Linked DNA regions of Homo sapiens. The protein of the gene in region 1 purifies or fractionates together with the protein of each later gene. This does not show direct contact. Each region holds a gene or a part of one and is shown in the gene's direction. Other genes may lie near its edges.

What was found.
Region 2: the proteins of LETM1 (region 1) and SMIM12 purify together in Homo sapiens (affinity purification with mass spectrometry; one large-scale study listed by BioGRID and IntAct). This does not show direct contact.
Region 3: the proteins of LETM1 (region 1) and ADCK5 purify together in Homo sapiens (affinity purification with mass spectrometry; one large-scale study listed by BioGRID and IntAct). This does not show direct contact.
Region 4: the proteins of LETM1 (region 1) and ATP5F1C fractionate together in Homo sapiens (co-fractionation; one large-scale study listed by BioGRID). This does not show direct contact.

The regions. Positions count from the first base shown.
Region 1 is NC_000004.12:1,845,223-1,850,313, reverse strand, and holds part of LETM1 (mitochondrial proton/calcium exchanger protein precursor), read left to right. Parts: intron 1-1,104; coding exon 1,105-1,165; intron 1,166-5,091. UniProt on the Homo sapiens protein: Plays an important role in maintenance of mitochondrial morphology and in mediating either calcium or potassium/proton antiport. Mediates proton-dependent calcium efflux from mitochondrion.
Region 2 is NC_000001.11:34,853,306-34,856,749, reverse strand, and holds part of SMIM12 (small integral membrane protein 12), read left to right. Parts: intron 1-10; exon of another isoform or gene 11-194; intron 195-767; coding exon of another isoform or gene 768-772; coding exon 773-1,051; 3' UTR 1,052-3,444.
Region 3 is NC_000008.11:144,372,585-144,376,846, forward strand, and holds the start of ADCK5 (uncharacterized aarF domain-containing protein kinase 5), read left to right. Parts: upstream 1-1,462; 5' UTR 1,463-1,511; coding exon 1,512-1,523; intron 1,524-2,241; exon of another isoform or gene 2,242-2,819; coding exon of another isoform or gene 2,820-3,053; intron 3,054-4,262. UniProt on the Homo sapiens protein: The function of this protein is not yet clear. It is not known if it has protein kinase activity and what type of substrate it would phosphorylate (Ser, Thr or Tyr).
Region 4 is NC_000010.11:7,798,177-7,801,676, forward strand, and holds part of ATP5F1C (ATP synthase F(1) complex subunit gamma, mitochondrial isoform L (liver) precursor), read left to right. Parts: intron 1-813; coding exon 814-1,018; intron 1,019-1,254; exon of another isoform or gene 1,255-1,325; intron 1,326-1,595; coding exon 1,596-1,739; intron 1,740-1,850; coding exon 1,851-1,915; intron 1,916-3,500.

The DNA.
Region 1 (5,091 bases):
TTTTTTTAGGACTACTTTGAGATACTGTTTTCATAACTGGGGCAGACCCTTCACTTAGCAGTGCTCTGAAACCTTCCAACACTCAGAACTGGCTTCCAGAAACTTACAGAGGTTTCTACAAAAGAGATCTGTACTCTTTCAGATTTTTTTTTTCTTTTTGAGACGGAGTTTCACTCTTGTTGCCCAGGCTGGAGTGCAATGGTGCGATCTCAGCTCACTGCAACCTTTGCCTCCCAGGTTCAAGCTATTCTCCTGACTCAGCCTCCCAAGTAGCTGGGTTTACAAGCATGTGCCACCATACCCGGCTAATTTTGTATTTTTAGTAGGGATGAGGTTTCACCGCTGGTCAAGCTGGTCTTGAACTCCTGGCCTCAGGTGATCCACTCGCCTTTGCCTCCCAAAGTGCTGGGATTACAGGCGTGAGCCACGGCGCCCCGCCTTCTTTCAGACTTAAAAGAAGGTTTCAGGCTGGGAGTGGTGGCTCACGCCTGTAATCCCAACACTTTGGGAGACCAATGCAGGAGGGTCGCTCGAGGCCAAAAGTTGGAGACCAGCCTAGGCAACAAAACGAAACCCCGTCTTTACAAAAATTAGCCTGGCCTGATGGTGCACACCTGTAGTCCCAGCTACTTGGGAGGCTGAGGCAAAAGGATCCCTTGAGCCCAGGAGTTCAAGGCTGCAGGGAGCCGTGACTGTACCACTGCATTCCAGCCTGGGCAAAGTCAAATAAATCAAAATGAACAAAAGGCTGAGCACGGTGGCTCATGCCTGTAATCCCAGCACTTTGGGAGGCCAAGGCGGGCGGATCACCTGAGGTCGGCAGTTTGAGACCAGCCTGGCCAACATGGTGAATGAAACCCTGTCTCTACTAAAAAAAAAAAATTAGCTGGGCATGGTGGTGGGCACCTGTAATTCCAGCTACTCAGGAGGCTGAGGCAGGAGAATCAATTAAACCCAGGAGGTGGAGGTTGCAGTGAGCCGAGATCACGCCATTGCACTCTAGCCTGGGCGCAAGAGCGAAACTCCAAAAACCAACAACAAAAAAAGGTATCAGTATAAATCCCTGATTTACTACTCATTTATTTTCCCCTGTTCCTGTTACAGGTAGTCCAGGGGATCCTGCTCATCTCAGCTGTGCCAGCACCCTGGGGTTGAGGAACTGCCTGTGAGTAAATCAGTATCACTCTGCACCTGTCTGTTTGAAAACAGGGTTTGAAAATGGTGGAGAGTCACGAGTGACTCTTGATTTTTGAGGGAAACAGTGTATCCTACTTTCCTGTTCTTTGTTTCTTTTAAACCTTTATCTTTCCATTTTGAAAATGATTGTCACATGCCTCAGTGAATCTATAGACAGTATAGAAACATTCCTAACCTCAGTGCCCAGTTGCACTTGGAGAGCTGGGGACAGAAGGCTTCCTGTCCCCTAACAGGAATTAAATGGAATTTAATTGTTGGACTCCCAGTTGGAGTGGGCACTGGCAACTGTGCCCTCAAAGTGCCCAGTGTCAGTATTTTGATGTACAGCAAGTCTCATTTAATGTCTGTAGGTTCTTGGAAACTGCGACTTTTTTTTTTTCTTTTTTTTTTTTTTTTTTTTTGAGACAGAGCCTTGCTCTGTCACCCAGACTGGAGTGCAGTGGCACATGCTTGGCTCACTGCAACCTCCGCCTCCCAGGTTCAAGTGATTCTCCTGCTTCAACCTCCCGAGTAGCTGGGATTGCAGGCATGCCTCACTGCGCCTGGCTAATTTTTTTTTTTTTTTTTTTGAGACGGAGTCTCGCTCTGTCACCCAGGCTGGAGTGCAGTGGCGCAATATCAGCTCACTGCAAGATCCACCTCCCGGGTTCATGCCATCCTCCTGCCTCAGCCTCCCAAGTAGCTGGAACTACAGGCGCCCGCCACCACGCCCGGCTAATTTTTTGTATTTTTAGTAGAGATGGGGTTTCACCGTGTTAGCCAGGATGGTCTCAATCTCCTGACCTCGTGATCCGCCCGCCATGGCCTCCCAAAGTGCTGGGATTACAGGCATGAGCCACCGCGTCCGGCCGCACCTGGCTAATTTTTGTATTTTTATTAGAGACGGGGTTTCACCATGTTGGCCAGGCTGGTCTTGAACTCCTGACCTCCCGTGATCTGCCTGCCTTAGCCTCCCAAAGTGCTGGGATTATAGGTGTGAGCCACCATGCCTGGCAGAAACTGCAACTTTAAGGTCCACGAATAACGTTTTATTATAACTTTGGATGAGAAAAGAAATTGGTTTTCTTATGTCTTTTTCCTTAAGGTTGCATTTTCTTTTTTTTTTTTATTTTTATTTTTTTTGAGACAGAGTCTCGCGCTGTCACCAAGCTGGAATGCAGTGGCGTGATCTCTGCCCACTGCAATCTCCACCTCCCGGGTTCAAGCAGTTATCTGCCTCAGCCTCCCAAGTAGCTGGGATTACAGGCGCGCACACCACACCCAGCTAATTTTTTTTTTTTTTTTTTTTTTTTGAGACCGAGTTTTGTTCTTGTCACCTAGGCTAGAGTGCAGTGGTGCAATCTCGGCTCACTGCAACCTCTGCCTCCCGGGTTCAAGCGATTCTCCTGCCTCAGCCTCCCTAGTAGCTGGGATTAGAGACGCCGCCACCACACCCAGCTAATTTTTGCATTTTTAGTACAAAAGTACAAAATTTTCACCACATTAGCCAGGCTCATCTCAAACTCCTGACCTCAGATGATCCACCTACCTCGGCCTCCCAAAGTGCTGGGATTACAGGTGTGAGCCACTGCGCCTAGCTGCTCCCGTTATTTTCTTTAGTGAGTTCTCCAGCAGTTGTTCCTCCCTGGGGACCAGTTCCCCCAAACCTCGTCAGTCTGGACCTTCCTTCTAGATGAGCTGAACCATTTTACTTCTAAAACAGTCTTTTTGGGATTGTATCTGAAGTGTCATTAAACCAGTTGGGAAGGAATATTACTTTTTTTTTTTTTTTTGAGACAGGATCTCATTCTGTTCATTGCCCAGGCTAGAGTGCAGTGGTGCAATCATGGCTCACTGCAGCTTTGATCTCCCAGGCTCAAGCCATTCTCCCACCTTAGCCTCCTGAGTAGCTGGGACTACAGGCATTACCAACATGCCTTGCTAAATTTTTTTCTTTTTGGTATTTTTTGTAGAGACAGGTTCTCACTATGTTGTCCAGGCTGCTCTTGAACTCCTGGACTCAAGCAGTCCTCCTGCCTTTGGCCTCCCAAAGTGCTGGGATTACAGGTGTGAGCCACTGCACCCGGCCTGTTTTCTTTGTATAGGCCACATGCATTGCATTTTAGATAATTCCCAGATGTTTATTATTTTCATTAATTCTTTTCATTATCTTTTCTAAGTGATCATTGCTGTCCCGTAAGTTGCTAAGTTGTACAATTTTCTTGTATCTGGCCCCTTTCCTGTTATTTGTTCAGCTCTTGTAGCAGCCCAGGTTTAGTTTATGGCTGTGATCTTAGTACATAGTAATCATCTGCCTCTTCTTTCCCAGGGCTTCTGCTTCTGAGGTGGTTTCATTTCTTAGCTCAGTAGCCAGATCTGTGTCAGAACAGCTGTAGTCAGTCATGCGGTATCACAATAGCAGAAAATACAGGATCTAGTGTTTGTGACATATGATGTTAGCTTTTGGGTTTAAGTAATCTTTGTTCTGTCTGTTACTCTTTTTATTAGGAATGGATGTTGAATTTGTCAAGCAACTTTTTAGCATTTAAATTTCATACTAAAACATAAATGCTGGCCGGGCACGGTGGCTCACACCTGTAATCCCAACACTTTTGGAGGCTGAGTCGGGAAGATCACGAGGTCAAGAGTTCAAGACCAGCCTAGCCAACATGGTGAAACCCCATCTCTAATAAAAATACAAAAATCAGCTGGGCATGGTGGTATGTTCTTGTAATCCCAGCTACTCAGGAGGCTGAGGCAGGAGAATTGCTTGAACCGGGACCCGGGAGGTGGCAGTTGCAGTGAGCCAAGATGGCGCCACTGTACTCCAGCCTGGGCTAACAACAAAACATAAAAGCTGTACTTTATTCACGTAACTTTTTTTAAAGTTCCCAATTTTGAACATCTACTTAAAAATTTAAACAATGAGGACTGTACAGCTGTTTTGATGGACTTGTCTACTTATCAAGAATTATGGATGAGGCCGGGCGCAGTGGCTCACGTCTCTAATCCCAGCACTTTGGAAAGTTGAGGTGGGCAGATCACTTGAGGCCAGAAGTTCAAGACCAGCCTGGCCAACATGGTGAAACCCCATCTCTACTAAAAATACAAAAATAACTGGGTGTGATGGTGCGCGCCTGTAGTCCCAGGTACTTGGGAGGCTGAGGCAGGAGAATCCCTTGAACCCAGGAGGTGGAGGTTGCCGTGAGCCAGGATCACACCGCTGCACTCCAGCCTGGGCAACTGAGGGAGAGTCTGTCTCAAAAAAAATAATAATATAATAATTATGGATGAGGCAAGGTGCAGCGGCTCATGCCTGTAATCTCATGCCTGTAATCCGAGGCGGGCAGATCACTTGAGGTTAGGAGTTCAAGACCAGCCTGGCCAACATGGCGAAACTTCATCTCTACTAAAAATACAAAAATTACCTGGGCGTGGTGGCACATGCCTATAATCCCAGCTACTTGGTGGCTGAGGCAGGAGAACTTCGTGAACCTGGAAGGTGGAGGTTGCAGTGAGCCCAGATTGTGCCACTGCACTCCAGCCTGGATGACAGAGCAAAACTGTGTCTCGAAAAAAAAAAAAAAGAAAAAAAAAAGAAAAAAGAATTATGGATGGTGGTAATGTTTCAGCAGCCAAAAAATTTTACTTTTTATTTGGTCACACAATATAAACACCTTTGCATTTTTAGTACAAAAATACAAAGTTTTCACCACATTGGCCAGGCTCATCTCGAACTCCTGACCTCAGGTGATCCACCTACCTCGGCCTCCCAAAGTGCTGGGATTACAGGTGTGAGCCTTGTAGTCACCAGATAAGTAGCTATAAATGGTAACCATTTACATTAGTTTTTGTAAACAGTTATTTTACAGATGCAGGTAATCCTCAGATGAAATGGCCCAGATCTCTGAGGGT
Region 2 (3,444 bases), on another chromosome or scaffold:
TTTACATGAGGAAAAGGAACGACTTTTCATATTGTGAAACCAGGAGATTCATCGTAGATTGTGTTTCATGGGGAAAAGGTGGCCGGCTGTGCTCATGGAGAAATTTCATAGAGCAGAGAAAGGCATCTTTTTCCCTTCTTGAAATGTTGGCAGACTAGGTCCTGGGGTCAACAATAGGCTTGAAGCTCTATTAGGTAAGGCTCAGAGGTCCCCTTGTGGGGAACATTGTCATATATTGGTGCACACTTGTCAAAGAGTACGGTCCGTAAAATGGAGATCCTTCCTTCTTCCCTAACAATGGAATCTTTTGAAATTTCCTAGATTATTTCAGGGATCCACCTCTCGCATTGCTCTGCACGGGGGTGGGTGCTCAGTAAATTGTGCCAGGCTGGCCAGGTGTGGTGGCTCACGCCTGTAATTCCAGCACTTTGGGAGGCTGAGGTGGGTGAATCACGAGGTCAGGAGTTCAAGACCAGCCTGACCAACATGGTGAAACCCTGTCTCTACTAAAAAAATACAGAAATTAGCTGTAATCCCAGCTACTTGGGAGGCTGAGGCAGATAATTGCTTGAACCTGGGAGGTGGAGGGTGCGGTGAGCTGAGATCGTGCCACTGCACTCCAGCCTGGGCGACAGAGCAAGACTCCGTCTCAAAAAAAAAAAAAAATTGTGCCAGGCTGCCTGGTAAGTGGAGAGCTCTAGTGGGTTGCTCTTATTTGGTGGGAGATGATGCTGGGTTCTCTAATGCTGCCTTGTGCTTTTCCGCAGATGTCATGTGGCCTGTGTTTTGGACCGTGGTTCGTACCTATGCTCCTTATGTCACATTCCCTGTTGCCTTCGTGGTCGGGGCTGTGGGTTACCACCTGGAATGGTTCATCAGGGGAAAGGACCCCCAGCCCGTGGAGGAGGAAAAGAGCATCTCAGAGCGCCGGGAGGATCGCAAGCTGGATGAGCTTCTAGGCAAGGACCACACGCAGGTGGTGAGCCTTAAGGACAAGCTAGAATTTGCCCCGAAAGCTGTGCTGAACAGAAACCGCCCAGAGAAGAATTAATGGAGGACACAGGGCCCTATGGTCCTACTGTGGGTGGTGACTTGTCCTGCTACCATGTTGACAGAGCCCCAGAACCCACATCTAATTGGCTTTGTTGCTTATTCTGGCCCTTCCCACACCACACAGCCACACAAATACTGGCTGCTCCTTGATGGCCAGGCAGACCCAGCAGCAGCCGAGGGGCCAGTGAAGAGGAAGGCCGCATCTGTTGTGTGGTGGCCACAAGCACTCAGGCATCTGAGTTTACTGGTGCACTGCTGGGAGGAGAGTTATGAGATGAACATTGGCTGTCAATCTCTGTGGGCAGGCGGTTTGGCCTCTAGTGGGAATGGCTGGGATTTGGGCGTTGCCTTTAGGAGGGATACCTGCATGTCTAGTTCCAGTCTGCACTGGAAAGAATTCAAATATGCACCTGGCTCCCTTCACTATTTTGCCCTATCCTTTGTGCTCATTCTTACTGAAATCTGTCTTGTCAGCTCAGGAATGGGATTCCCCCAGGAAGGAAAGCACTTTTCTGTTCTGGGAAGCCCAGACTGTTCACTTTGGGGCAGGGACGAACATGTGCCTCGTGAATTTGCTTGAAAACAGTCACCATCTTCTACCCCCATCACTGTATAGTGAAAAACCTGATTAAAGTGGTATCTGAGAACCATAATGATCGAATCTTATCATCCAGGTGGTATTTGGGGGTCTTCTTAGGAGTTAGGCAAGTACAGGCATTTTAGAGCAGGATAACATTGGTATTAAAGGGTGCCAAGGAGCCCTGGAAACTGCTTTACTAGTGCGGTTGCACTGAACCCTGGAGGCACAGATTCCCAGGAACCTTTTTACCATTATTACAATTGGCTGCAGCACCTTCAAGTCTAAATGGAGGTAGACCTCACATACACACACATAGACGCCTTTCCCTATAAAAGTATATACGCACATTCAAGAAAATTTGGTAGGGATTTTAAAAAGGTCACCCATGTTCCCAGCTCGTTAATAACAACCGTTAACATTTTGTTGTCTTTTACTAATTCTCTGCATAGGTTTTAGAGATAGTTATCATTACTGTACATTTAATTTTATATACTTTTCTCACTATTATCATTTTCCCATTTTACATGGTCATCATAATTGGTTTTTTGGAGACAGGGTCTCACTCTGTCACACAGGCTGGAGTGCAGTACAATTACGGCTCAGTGCAACCTTGACCTCCTGGGCTCAAGTGATCCTCTCACTTCAGCTCCTCAAGTAGATGGGACTACAGGAGTATGCCACCATGCCCAGCTAATTTTTTTATTTTTTTGTAGAACCAGGTCTCACTATGTTGCCCAGGCTAGTCTCAAACTCCTGGGCTCAAGTGATCCTCCGGCCTTGGCCTGTAGTTTCTTTTTTCTTTTTTTTTGGAGATGGACTCTCATTCTGTCACCCGGGCTGGAGTGCAGTGGCGTGATCTTGGCTGACTGCAACTTCTGCCTCCTGGGTTCAAGCGATTCTCCTACCTCAGCTTCCTAAGTAGCTGGGATTACAGGCGTGCGCCATCGTGCCTGGCTAGTTTTTGTGTTTTTAGTAAAGACAGGGGTTTCACCATCTTGGCCAGGCTGGTCTCGAACTCCTGACCTCAAGCGATCCCATCTGCCTCGGCCTCCCAAAGTGCTGGGATTACAGGTGTGAGGCACCGTGCCTGGCAGTCTGTAGTTTTTTTTTGTTGTTGTTGTTGTTGTTGTTTTAAATATGGAGTCTCGCTGTATTGCCCAGGCTGGAGTGCAGTGGCGCGATCTTGGTTCACTGCAACCTCCACCTCTTGGGTTCAAGCGATTCTCCTGCCTCAGCCTCCTGAGTAGCTGGGATTACAGGTGTGCGCCGCTACGCCTGGCTAATTTTTGTATTTTTAGTAGAGACAGGGTTTCACCATGTTGGTCAGGCTGGTCTCAAACTTCTGACCTTGTGATCTGCCTGCCTTGGCCTCCTAAAGTGCTGGGATTACAGGCGTGAGCCACCGTGCCTGGCTGTAGTTGTTTATAATAGCAACATAATTGTCTATCAAGTGGGAGTATGACATAAGTTTATCCTGGACAATTTCCATATTGCTGGACATTTGAATTGTTTCTGGTTGGTCACTCGTTTAGATACTGCAACGAATATCTTATATGAAGCTTTTCCTGCGTTTTGGAATAAACAGTAAAAATAGTAAATGTCATTTTGGATGAAATGGGATAAATGAGCAGTTTTGAGGATCTCATGCATAACACCAAATGTCTTTCCAAAAGGGCTCTAGGAGTTTCTACTAAATCTTACCACTGAAGACGTTGCTGGTAAGGCTGTGAGGGGAGTAAAAGCAGAGAGCAGGAAGAAGCATAAGAAGCTGTTGCCTCTTGAAGCCTACTGATGTTTAACTAAAGTCAGCA
Region 3 (4,262 bases), on another chromosome or scaffold:
TGGAGGCCAATCCCTGTCCTGCTAGCAAAGTGATGCAGGGCACACAGAATCATTGAGCCCAGCAAACTTGACCTTGGGGATGACAGAGACTTCACAGGAGACACGCCATAACAGAAGGGGCACTAAAGGGCTGGAGGCACCGGCTTTCCCTAGGCAGGGACCACCCCATTGAAGAGATGCCTTTGGGTTCAGTCCCAGTGGGAGGAGCAAGAGGACTGTAAGAAGATGAGGACGAGGAGCCATGTGGGAGGAGGAGGGGCCACTTGTGGGAGGAGGAGGGGCCACTTGTGGGCGGAGGAGGGGTCACTGGTGGGAGGAGGAGGGGCCACTGGTGGGAGGAGGAGGGGCCACTGGTGGGAGGAGGAGGGGCCACTTGTGGGCGGAGGAGGGGCCACTGGTGGGAGGAGGAGGGGCCACTGGTGGGAGGAGGAGGGGCCATTGGTGGGAGGAGGAGGGGCCACTTCTGAGAGTTGTGAAAAGGCCTTGAGGCCTGAAAACCTCCCACTTTCAGCTACTGTGGCACCCTTAGGCCAAGCTGACTCAGGAGCCCTCGTGGATTCCACAAGGATGGTGTTTTGTTTCATGCTCACAGTGGGGTCTAGGAGGGCTTGCAGGCAGTAAGTGCCAGGACCCGTGTTGGCGCCCGAGGATCCCTGGCATGTTCGGGGACGGTGAGGTCAGTCCAGCAGCGGTGAGGTCAGTCTAGTAGCAGTGAGGTCAGTCTAGTAGCGGTGAGGTCAGTCTAGTAGCGGTGAGGTCGTCAGTCCAGCAGTAGCCTTGCTGGCTGCATGGCATGCCCGGGCCTGGGCCCCTACCCAGCCAGGGCTGTCACAGAGTGAGTAGCAGCAGCCTAGGGCACTGCAGGAGGCTGTGACGTCACTGACGTTCCCATAAGAAGCTAAGTGACAGGGACCAAGGGTGGCTGCAAAGTGAACCCCAGAATCTGAAGCCCTGGCCCTGGGAAGGTCTCCCCATGGGCACGGGAGCTGCTCCAGGACCCCTTTGGCCACTCTCCTGGTTGTCTTCCAGTTCCCAGTCAGGGGCGTCATCTTGGCCCTCACACAGGCAGGTGGTGAGTTGGAGTCCTGAGGTTAAAGAGATTCACGCTAATCACACTATAGCACGGAGTGTTAAAGAGAGGCGGATACCGGGCCGTGAGGACCTCAGGAAGCCCTCAGCCCTCCCCGGATTATCCACGTGCTTCTCACAGCGGTCCTTCCGGCAGGTGCCTGCCCGGGGAATGCGCAGTGCGCCGAGGGCGGGACTGGAACCCTCCGCTCTCAGGAGGCGCGGTCCGGGCGCCAAAAGGTAAGCCTCTGGGGGCCGCCAGGGGACGCTGCCCCGCCGCGGAGGCCGGCACGACTCGGGGCGTGGCCTCCAGCCTCGCCCACCGCCCACGGGGCGGGGCTCTGGCTCCGGCGCGTGCGCACTACGCGCCCTCCCGCAGGGCCTGCTGGGCTGCGAGACGCTAAGCGGCGCCGGGCGGGAGAAGAGCGGAGCAGTGGTCGGAGATGTGGCGACCGGTGAGGACTCTCCCGGCCCGGGGCGCCCGAGATCCTGCACACCAGCCCCAGAGACCCGAGACCCGCAAGTCCCCAGACCCCGCCCTAGAGACCCTCGGGGCTTTTTCCCTCTTTTTTTTTGAGGCAGGGTCTCGCTCTGTCGCCCTGGAGCGCAGTGGTGCGATCTCCGCTCACCGCAGCTTCCGCCTCCCGGACTCAGGCGATCCTCCCGCCTCGGCCCCGCAAGTAGCTGACACCGCAGGCGTGACCGCTCCCGGCCGACTCTGTTTAGCAGAGTCGGGGTCTCGCCGTGTTGCTCAGGCTGGTCTCGAATTCCTGGGCTCTAGCGATCCGCCCGCCTCAGCCTCCCCGAGAGCTGGGATTTCAGGCGGGAGCCGCGCCCGCAGCCCTGACGCCGCCTGCACCGGGAGCCGCAGGGGCCCCTCCGCCCAGCCCGGAGGCGGGTGCCCGGCGCCCCGGAGAGCGCGATCTCCAGAGGGCAGGGGCCCCGCGGGGAAGCCTCAGGCGCCGTTCCCCTCGCGAGGCGGCCTCCCGGAATCACGGACGCCTCCCTGCCCAGCCTGCTGCCCCGGACCTCCTTCGCTCGCCTCCCCGCCGGGCCTGCCCTGCCCTGAGGCGGCGGGCGGGCGGGGGCTGCAGGCCGGGCTCTGCTCTGAGCGCCCCTGCGTCGTCTCAGGGGCGCGCCCCCCATGGCTCCGAGGCCCCCTCTCTCAGGCTCTCGGCGTCTCCCCGCTCCCACGTCGCCGCCGGGTCCCGTTGCTCTGTCCCTGCGGTTAGGACTGCGGGGGGGCGGGGCAGAGGCCTTGACACGCATCTTACCCACCCCCTTCCAGAAGAGATGAAGGGGCTCCCAGCGCCGTTCCTTTTTTTCTTGGAATGTCAGCAGAGCTTGTGTTTGGCGATAAGCTAGCCTTGCCCGTCTGGCTATAAATAGCACAGATGGACGGCCCACTCGTGCCCCAGCCCAGCTGTGTGACCCCAGGGTGCTTCATGGGCCGGGGAGGTGGCCTTCAGTGCAGCTCCTTCCAGGTGACAAAGTCTTCCCACGTGCAGGCCACTCAGTCCCTCCCCAGCCCCAGCGAGTGGACAGGTCGGTTTAGCCTCTGGTTAGGAGCTGCTCATGGCCAGTGAGCAGGGCTGGGTCCAGGCGGCGTTTGAGGACTGGCTGGGGCTGACAGGGTCACACACCCTGGGAGAAGGACAGTGTCTGTGGTCGCCAGACCCACTTACCCTGCCCAGACTCCCAATCTGTCTCTTCCTAACTTTGGGGACAATTATGTGCCTCAGTTTCCCCTCATGTTGAGGTGCACAGTGCTGTTGGGTTCCCCAGGCTCTGGTCATCCGTTCATGGTTTTTAGTTTCTGGCATCATTCTGAGACTCGGCAGTTGCTTCTCACTGCTGCGGCCGGGCCTGTCTGTGGGAGCTGCATCCTCCTCATCTGCAGGCGCTGGAAAACCAGACACGATCGGACATGCATGTGGTTCTGCGGCCAAAGCACGCCCTTTGGTTGTGAACTTCATGATACCTGTGTGAGTGTTACCACTCAGAATACTTGCCGCTTTCAAGGTAGTCAGCTGTGGTCTAGAGTCACTCTGGAACGGGAGGTGTTTCCGTTTGTGCAGACAGACTGCACACACTCACCATAAGAAAGCATGAGAGGTTCTGACAGGGGGCACCCGTTTCATCTTGTCCAAACTGGAAGGCTTTGGAAGTCAGGGGAGCTGCAGGGATAAGTGTCACCAGGGCCGTCTCAGGTGTGTTGGGGGAAGGCCCTGGGGACCCACCGTCTAAAAGACGGCTTATCTTCTGGCAGTTTAGAGGTCGTGTTCTGGGTGCGGTTGGGGCTGTGTGTCACGTGAGAATTGCCCTGGATTGGGCTCTGGGAAGTCCTTCTGGGAGATGCAGCTGCAGGCTCGCCCCCCAACCCATAACCTCTCTGGGCCTTGGGGACCTCTCCTGTGTGATGGGAATTTCAGAGAGGATAGTCTGGGTGTGCTGGGCGCTCCACATTTGGAGGAGACAGGCTCTTGCTCAGCCTCATGGGCCCTGGCAGGCACTGTGGGTTATCAGTGCCTGTTGCTTGGCAGGGCCATGTGGGGTTCAATTGAGTCCTGTGCTTCACAGCTGTTGGTCTCATTCGGCAGGCATTCATTGAGTGCCTGCTTGTTCAGAGATGGTTGAGAGGTGGCCCTGCTCACAGTCTAGTGGGAGGACAGATTCCGTAAGTTGACAGTCACGCTGGTGTGTGATGAGGACAGTGGCAGGATAGGACCACGGTGAACAAGGTGGAGCGGGACGTGAGCATGAGCAAGGCTGCTGGTGGACCAGGGTAGGGTGATGGTGGCCCGGGGTCTACTGGAGGGATCTCTGTCCTGGATAAGAATGGGAGTGAGAGACGCAGCTGGAGCCCCTTCTGCAATGCTGGTTCCTGAGGAAAGAGCAGAAAACTGTTGTTGGAGACAGCAGTCAGCCAGCCATGACTTTCCTGGCCTCACCTGTTTGGTGGAGCCTGTGGAAACAGCTTGCGTTGCTGGTCATGGATGAGGTGGGCAGTGGCTGGGATAGCCACCTGGAGGTAGCTCCCTTGCAGCCACTTACGAGCTGCTGTTCAGAGTCTCTCCACAGTCCGTGGGCACGACTGCCTGATCTCGGGGCCTCTAGCCATGCATGCACTGGCACCAGAGGTGGCTAGGGTCAGGAGGTGCAGGCTGGGTAGGCAGCAGGTGGATGGCCCGCCT
Region 4 (3,500 bases), on another chromosome or scaffold:
AGCTGTCCTTTGTTTTTTTATGTGTGTGTGTGTGTTTTGTTGTTGTTTTTTGTTTGTTTTCTTTTTGTGTTTTTTTTTGAGATGGAGTCTCATTCTGTTGCCCAGGCTAGAGTGCAATGGTGCAATCTCAGCTCACTACAACCTCCCCCTCCCAGGCTCAAGCGATTCTCCTGCCTCAGCCTCCCCAGTAGCTGGGATTAACAGGCCCCCACCATCACACCTGGCTAATTTTTGTATTTTTTTTTTCTGAGTCGGAGTCTAGCTCTGTCTCCCGGGATGGAGTGCAGTGGCATAATCTCAGCTTGCTGCAAGCTCTGCCTCCCGGGTTCACGCCATTCTCCTGCCTCAGCCTCCCAAGTAGCTGGGGCTACAGGCGCCCGCCACCACGCCTGGCTAATTTTTTTGTATTTTTTAGTAGAGACGGGGTTTCACCGTGGTCTTGATATCGTGACCTTGTGATCCGCCCGCCTTGGCCTCCCAAAGTGCTGGGATTACAGACGTGAGCCACCGTGCCCAGCCAATTTTTATATTTTTAATAGAGACGGGATTTCACTACGTTGGCCAGGCCGGTCTCAAACTCCTGACCTCAGGTGATCCGCCCACCTCGGCCTCCCAAAGTGCTGGGATTACAGGCGTGAGCCACTGTGCCCGGCCTCAGCTTACAGCTGTCCTAAGAACACCTGCTTACACTAGGCAGTTGCCAGCTAAATTTAAATGCGTATTTTGGAAATAACCAACTGCTTTGTAAATTAGAGATTTATTGTATTTAGTGTATTGCATATAAAAAAATTACTGCTTTTGTTTGTTTTTAAGCTCTGTATGAAAAAGCTGATATCAAGGGGCCTGAAGACAAGAAGAAACACCTCCTTATTGGTGTGTCCTCAGATCGAGGACTGTGTGGTGCTATTCATTCCTCCATTGCTAAACAGATGAAAAGCGAGGTTGCTACACTAACAGCAGCTGGGAAAGAAGTTATGCTTGTTGGAATTGGTGACAAAATCAGAGGCATACTTTATAGGTAATTTAAATATATATTGTTTATTTTCATAAAGATGTAAGCACGAATAAATCTTCTCTCAAAAGTTTTGACAAACTCTCAAAACCTTCATCAATAACAAGGTATATTCTTCAGGGCCTTTTTTGGTATATTCACAAGGGGGTGTTTGTTTCCTTTTTCTTTTTTCCAGGATATATTGGAACATTTCTGTTTTCCTTCCCCTGTTTTCTACCTTTGCTTCTTCATCCGGATCATAAGTTGAATGCCATGTGAATATCAAAAGCTATCAGCATTAAGCCAAATGAGGCATCTGAGGAGCTGTTACAGCCTGGAAATGTTAGCAATAGTTCATTAGGATTAGAAGGAGAGGAATAAAGGGGAAAAGAATATAAAACAGACCTCATTTTTAGTTCTTAGTTCTTTGCAGGTGCTGAAGGAAAGGAATGATGATAGTGTGTGGAACAACTCAGGAAATCACCACCACCCATACCCCAAAAGACCTGATCCATGGTGACAATGTTTTCTCCTGCCTGTCCCCTGTGCTCTTTCAGCAGAAATCTTATTAAACTAGCTATGTGAGCTCTTGCTTTTCTTATAGGACTCATTCTGACCAGTTTCTGGTGGCATTCAAAGAAGTGGGAAGAAAGCCCCCCACTTTTGGAGATGCGTCAGTCATTGCCCTTGAATTACTAAATTCTGGATATGAATTTGATGAAGGCTCCATCATCTTTAATAAATTCAGGCAAGACAGATTTAGAAATCAAAGCTTTTTTATGTTCATGCTTTTGTTCATATTTTGAAATAACAGTTTAAAAATTATTTTGAGATTTACATTTGTTTTTGTCAATTCTAGGTCTGTCATCTCCTATAAGACAGAAGAAAAGCCCATCTTTTCCCTTAATACCGTTGCAAGTGCTGGTAAGTAGTTTTTCTATGATACATATTTTTTGGCATATAGAATGGAGAGATTTGTACACTAAGGCAGACAGTGTCAAGATATCTGGTGGTAGCTATAGCAAATGATTTGGGGCTGTTTCTTTTTTAGATGGAATCTTGCTGCCTCCCAGGCTGGAGTGCAGTGGCACCATCTCGGCTCACTGCAAGTTCCGCCTCCTGGGTTCACACCATTCTCCTGCCTCAGCCTCCCTAGTACCTGGGACTACAGGCACCCGCCACCAAGCCTGGCTAATTTTTTGTATTTTTAGTAGAGACGGGGTTTCACCATGTTAGCCAGGATGGTCTCAATCTCCTGACCTCGTGATCCACCCGCCTCGGCCTCCCAAAGTGCTGGGATTACAGGCATGAGCCCAGCCTTTTATTTTTTTATTTTTTATTTTTTGAGACGGAGTCTCACTGTGTCACCCAGGCTGAAGTGCAATGGCATGATCTCGGCTCACTGCAACCTTCGCCTCCCGGGTTCACGCCGTTCTCCTGCCTCAGCCTCCCAAGTAGCTGGGATTACAGGTGCACGCCACCACGCCTGGCTAATTTTTGTATTTTTAGTAGAGACAGCATTTCACCGTGTTCGCCAGGCTGGTCTTGAACTCCTGCCCTCAAGTGATCCACCTGCCTTGGCCTTCCAAAGTGCTGGGATTACAGGCATGAGCCACTGCACCCGGCCGATCTGGGGCTGTTTCTGAGAAGTGCCATCTCTTGACTTCCATGATACTTAATTCAGTCATTGTTTGATAACTCCTGCTCTATTCTGTCATTAATTGAAAAGTCAGTATCTATTGAGGTTCATCATTAGATTTTTTTGTCCTCAAGGATTGAAGAGCGTAGCTAGAAACTGGCTTTGCAAGTTATGTTTGGGACCTCTAACTACAATAAAACAGAAGCTCTAGAATAGAGAGTTGAACAGTGTTCACAGCTAATTTACATTGACTGACTCAATTCTCTTGTTTTATTGTTGGAATAAAGTCATCATTGATCATTGAAGCATCCTGGAATAATATTCTGGAACTGATTTTAGTTTTCTAAGGCTTTTTTCCCTTGTATATACCATCTATTTTCTAATACTTCATTTATTTTCAAGTATGTACTTTACACGTTAATGTTTCTGAAATTGAGATGGCTCTACCAGCCAATGGAACATCATTTATAATTGAGTACATTTTTTTCTCTCTTAATGAGAAATAAAGTAGGTGTTACAACCAGTACCATTTAATGAAATATAGTATTTTGATAATATATAGTACTGTGTCACCACTTGACCCCAATGAATGAATTTTGAAATGTACTTCTAAATTTCTACAACATTAAAACTACGATTCATACCAATTTCTAGTTCTCCCACTCTTTCATGTGCTTTGAAAGGTTTTCCCTCTCTCATTTTCCAGATTGATACATTCAGATTTCTTCAGTAATCAAATGACTAAGTTGGAATTACTGCACAGGTTGAGTATCCCTTGTGTGAATGCTTAGGACCAGAAATGTTTGGGATTTCAGAATATTTTCATATTTATAATGCAGTATCTTGGGGACAGGACCTGAGTCTGTACAC